2 separate regions of the Homo sapiens genome follow, and region 1 is linked to region 2. The links come from fine-mapping of genetic effects on gene expression. A gene starts in region 2. The other region holds a variant in brackets. All regions are shown on one strand. Distances are from middle to middle. Region 1 holds the start of LOC107984374 (a long non-coding RNA gene). Region 2 holds the start of LINC02725 (long intergenic non-protein coding RNA 2725).

The links. PIP is the estimated chance that this variant, and not a neighbour inherited with it, causes the effect. A credible set is the group of variants that fine-mapping cannot tell apart.
Region 1: its variant is the best candidate, but not a certain one, in a credible set for the expression of LINC02725 in blood mononuclear cells (TOPMed, PIP 0.75).

The regions. Positions count from the first base shown.
Region 1 is chr11:128,052,456-128,055,380 of GRCh38, forward strand. LOC107984374 (a long non-coding RNA gene) reads right to left here and starts at 2,280. Exons shown (of 2, transcript XR_001748082.2): 1 at 1,841-2,280. The variant G/C (reference allele first, on the strand shown) is at 1,269.
Region 2 is chr11:128,094,078-128,097,002 of GRCh38, forward strand. LINC02725 (long intergenic non-protein coding RNA 2725) reads left to right here and starts at 1,682. Exons shown (of 6, transcript NR_183639.1): 1 at 1,682-2,022.

The sequences.
Region 1 (2,925 bases), 42 kb before region 2:
CTTGGAGGTGGACTGGGCTGCTGAAGGGGGTCATTTTGAGAGACCTGTTGAAATCCTCAAGCTGTATTATATAAATACAAGATGTGCTATTGAGATGTGCTATTAAGCTAGACACCTACCAGTGCTTCAATCCTATGCATCCTCAAGTAGCCTTCAACAGTTAATACAAGTTTTAAAATACCTTTAGTTCTGAAAATTGTTGAAAACGTTGAGAGTGAAAACATTGAAAAATCTCAAGTATTTCAGGTAATAAAGAAATCATTACTGGATTTTTCTGTTTTCAATTGCTATTTCATTTATTTTCCTCACTCAAAACATTCTTTGCCCAGGCTGATGCAACTTAGTTTGCTTTATTCACCCAAAATATAGGACTTGATGTTTCCTTCCTTATACAACTTCCTACTCAAATCCCCTATCTTCCTTAAAGGCCGTGAAGGTGTTCTCTGCTTCCTTATCCTTTCAACCAGTCCCAGAAAGTTGTTTCCCTTTTCGTTAAGAGGCATAAAAATGTCAGTGCCACTGAATATACAATATCTTTATTCTCATCATCTAGGAGACAGGATGTGGTTAGGGTGTTAAATGTCAGGCATGTCAGATTTCACTTCCTGCTTCATAATCAATCCAATATGGGTCTACCAGGTCCCTGTTATATCCAAGCTTTTCCAAGATCTTGCTTCTAATCTGACCTGGACTGCTCTTACTTCAATTACCCAGGGACAAAGTTAACAATACCTGGCAATAACCCTCCCCTTCATCTACCTCCTGGCCCTTCTTCCATCTCCAGGGTTATAAAAATGAAGGAAATGTGTTACGACTGATTCACATGGCTTGGGAGTTGCTTGCTGGATGATTTCATAGTCTGGCTATTAGCTGTGAAGAAATATAATACCATCTTTACATATCTGGTTTTAGTTGGGAGGGAAAGGCTCAAATTAAAGCCTCAAGAGAGGCAGAGGGAATGGAGTGAAAGAGCATTAGAATTCTGGGGACTCAGTCTGATGATTTAGTAGGATGATTAGATGGAGTATTTATCCTGCTAATGTTGGTGTTTGATGCTCCAGTTTTTTTACTTGTGGTTTGTGTGCCAGGGTGGGAAGTGACTCTGGGGAATACCATGCTGGCTTAGGTGGAAGGAAATACTGGGGAGAGAATGCACAGCTTTTTGGCTGGTTGATTTCCCCTGGTGGAGGGGTTAATGATGAGGTTGGCAGCCAAAAAGCCAGAGCTCTTGGGTTCAACTTTAGATCCCATTACCGCATTGATGGGTG[G/C]TCTTGAGACAAAATCCTGTAATGGTTAAGAGGTTGGGCTCTGGGATCAGGCTGATGAACGCTCAAGCTCTGTGGCCTTGTGAAAATAAGCCCCATGTCTTTGTGTCTCAGTTTTCTTAAGTAAAAAAAGCAGATAATAATTGTGTTTAAATGAGATAAGGTATGAATTGTGCTAAGCGTAGTGCCTGAAACATGAAGACAGCTCAAAATGAGAAGGAGGAGGACAATGGAAATAAAACAGAATATCTGGATTTCTTTTTCTTTTTGATTCAGCAAATTTTTATTGAATGCCTATTATGAATCAATAAGTGCACATGATATTTTGAATGAAAAAAGGGCACCTTGAACACAGCTCTCACCCTGGAGACTTACCATCTCACTGAAAAAAAAAAATTAAATATCAGGCTACTTAAGTAAATGTGATGAGAGTTTAAGAATTCAGGAAAGAGGGTAACTATACATTGGAGTAAAGAATGTCATGAAAATATTTAAAATATTTAGGGTAAATTAGAAAATATTTTGTGGTTTCCATGAAACTATTGGAAACAGCAGTTATAGAGAAGAGAACTAACCTTGAATTAGAGGGTATGGATTTAAATTCAGTGGCTCTGTCACCTTTTTGTGTTGTCCTGGGGACTCTTTCACCTCTCTTTATTTGAGTTTCCACATCTGTAAAATTAATATAAGAGATGATGCATGGATTTCATGAGCATAGAGCAGGATCACATACATGTGCTTTGCACTAGGGAATATTCAAGAAGTAAATATGAAACAAACGCTTACTTCCTCTGTCTCTCTTCCTTTCTCTTTCTTTTTGTCAGAGCGACAGTGGCTCTCATTTGATTCCCTCAGTTCCTATGCTATTTGTGTGGAAATAAGCAGATTCACAGTTAAAAAACCATTCATATGTGTGCCAGGATGATTCACTGGACATGTCCTATTTCTCTTGCATCTTTCCACAGCCTCTTGAGTGCTCCCTGACCAGAGTTGCTGCCACATAAGGTGCAGGTGGATGGAGCCAGGGCTTGCTGCTTGAATGTCTGCCATCTGCTCTTGTCTCTGCAAGAGCTTCACTGGGTGAGGCTAGTTTACTCACCCTACAGTCTAGAAAGAGTTTACAATGCTAATTCCTGCTTCAGGGAAGCTATAGGAAGATGACTTAGCACCAGAAGTTGAAGATTCTTCCAGAGGAAAAGCCCTGTCTCAGTTTTACATAAGACTTTTTACTGTGTTATCCTTCACTCTCCTGGGTGACTTTGTCACCTCTCCAGGATCTAAAAGGCCTTTGAGTAATATCATAAAGAGACCCAATGTTTTCCCTCCAGGCCACTCTAGGGCTGCTTTTCTTGGTCTCAACAATTTCACAAAGCACTTTCTTTTCTTAATATAATAATATGCTAGAAATGAAAATATTTCAGCAAACTGTACGATCACAGCATAGTTGATGAGGAACTGTCCTGCACTTGTCAAAGTGCATAGCAATTCTTAAAAATGTAACTTGGAATTGCAGGTTTTTAAAAAAATTCTAATTTCCCTTTATTTCTTGAAGAAATTGTCCATGTTTGTGTTTGTAACACAGATGTTCCCTTTCTTCCAGGGGCAAAGTTTTATATCTCAAGGTTATTTATAAAAGTTCACTATAGTTAGGGGTGGAATA
Region 2 (2,925 bases):
TCAAAGTATCAACTGCAGATAGGGATATTGTTTGGAGACTTTGGCAGGACCCTATAAAGAAACCATAGTGCAAGACTTGAGGATTTTGGAGTAAGGTTATGCTGTCATTCACAGATAACTACTCTCCCTCTGAGAGTCAGCTCTTGGCCAGCTATTGAGCCTTTATAGAGACTGAATGGCTGACCATGAACCACCATGTTATCATATGTCCTGAGCTGCTCATCATGAATTGGTGGCTACCTGACCCACAAAGCCATAAAGTTGAGAGTACATAGCAACACTCGTCCATCAAATGGATGTGACTGGGGCTAAGCAGGTCCTGAAGGCACAGGTAAGTGACATTAAGAAGTGGCCCAAATGCCCATGATCCCCACTCCTGCTACACTTCCTGCTCTCTGCCAGCCTGCAGCTATGAAGTCATTAAAAAATTCCCTATGAGCAGTTGACAGAGGAAGAGAAGACTCAGCCTGGTTTACAGAGGATTCTGCAAAATATGCAGGCATAACACAAAAAGGGACAACTGCACCCCTATAGCCCCTCTCAGGGATATCCCTGAAGGACAGTGGTGAATGAAAATCCTCCCAGTGGACAGAACTTCAACCATTCCACCTGATGATTCACTTTTCTTAGAAAGAGAAATGGCTAGAGAGGTGATTACCTGCCAATTCATGGTCTGTAGCGAGTGTTCTTCTTTTTCTGGATGATCAGAAACTTAGAAAGGACACATGGAAAAATTGGTGACAAAAAATTTGGGGAAGAGAGATGTGGGCACACCTCTATGAATAAGCAAAAAATAATGGATATATTGTATTTCATGTGAATGCTCACCAAAGGGTGAGCTTGGCAGAGAAGGATTTTAACATTAAAGTGGATGGAATGACCCATTGTGTGGATGAATACAAATCAGTCTCTTTCTCCAGCCAACTTTGTCATTTCCCACTGGGCTCAGGAACAAAGAGGCCATGGTAGCAAGGATGGAAGTTACGCATGGGCTCAGAAACATGGACTTCCACTCAACAAGGCTAACCGGACTGTAGAAAACTGAGTGTCTAATCTCCCAATGGCAGAGACCAACACCTGGCTCCTAATATGACACCATTCCCTGGGGTGATTAGCCAACACCTGGTAGCAGGCTGATTGATTACCTTAGAAAACATCTGTCATGAAAGGGGCAGTATTTTGCCCTTCCTGGAATAGATGCTCTGAATATGGATTTGCCTTTCTTGCACACCACAACTACCATCTGTGAACTTAACTCACTGGCTTGTCCATTTTCATAGTCTTCCAGATCACATTGCTTTTGATGAAGGAACTCACTTCACAGCAAGGGAAGTGCAGCAATAGGGCCAGGAACATGAAAATCATTGGTCTTACTATGTTTTCCACCATTCTGAAGCTTCTGGCCTGATACATTGATGGAATTGTCTTTTGAAGACTCAGTTACAGTGCCACCTAGGTGGCAATACCTTGCAGGAATGGTTCTCCAGAAGGCTGTATATGGTCTGAATCAGGGTCAAATATATGATGCTATTTATGTGGTAGCCAGAATTCATGGGTCCAGGAATCAAAGAATGGAAGTGGGAGTGGCATCATTCACTACTGCGCCTAGTGACTCACAAGCAAAATGTTTACTTCCTGTTTCCATGACATTATGCTCTGCTGGCCTAGACGTCTTAGTTCCAGAGGATGGAATGCTTCACCAGGAGACACAAGAATAATTTCCTTGACCTGGGAGTTAAGACTGCCACCCAGCCACCTTGTGCTCTCCATGCTGCTGATTCAACAGGCAAATAAGGAAGTTATGGTGTGGGCTACAGTGATTGATCTGACTAACAAGAGGGAAATTGCTCCACCATGGGGGTGAGGGAGAGTACATCTGGAATACAGAAGTTCCCTTAGGACACCCTTAGTGTTCCCACACATTGCGATTAAGGCCAGTGGAAAACTACAATAACTCAGTTCAGGCGGAACAACTCATGGGGCAGAATCTTCAAGGAATGAAGATTTGAGTCCTTCTACCAGGTAAGGAAACAGGACCAGCTAAGGGAGTTGCTGAAGGCAAGGGTTGTACAGGATAGGAGTAGAAGGTAGTTATAAATACTAGCTACAACTATGTGGCCAGTTCCAGAAATGAGGACTATAATTGTCATGAGTATTATCTCCTAATTTTGTTATGAATATGCTTGTATGTATGTGTATATACATATGTTAAACACTATCTTTGTTATTTATCCTCTTTTGATTTTCCATATCAGGTAACATAAGCTATACTGACTCTTGTATAAGGATTTAAGTATTGTTCATTTTACTTCATAGTATTTAAGTTATGGAACATCAGGAGAAAAATGTCACTCAAGGACTTCATCTCCTTTTCTGAGGAAGACATTACTGTGTATTTGGTAGTATGAAAATTGTTGTATCATGTTAGGTGAAATCACGATGTTATTGTTATCTTTATCTGGAGATTAGGTATGATTTAAGGAGATACATAAGCCAAATTGATAAGAGGTAGATCTGTAATTATTAATTTTATATGCCAACTTGACTGAGCTAAGGGATCCCCAGAAAACTAGTAAAATTTTATTCTGGACACGTATGTGAGGGTGTTTCTGGAAGAGATTAGCACTTGAATGAGTAGACTGTGTTAAGATCATCTGCCTTCACCAGTACAGGTGGGCACCCATATTCAGAAGGACTGAATAGAACAAAAGAGGGGAAGTTTCTTTCTCTGCTTGAGCTGAGACATCCATTTTCTCCTGCCCTTGGACTTTGATGTTCATGGTTCTTGGGTCTTTGAACTCAGACCAGGGCTTATACCAGTGCCTTCCTGGTTTTCAGGCCTTTGGATTTGGGATGGAATTACACCACCAGCTTTCTTGGGCCTCAAGATTACAGAGGAAAAATTATGGGGCTTCTTACCTTCAT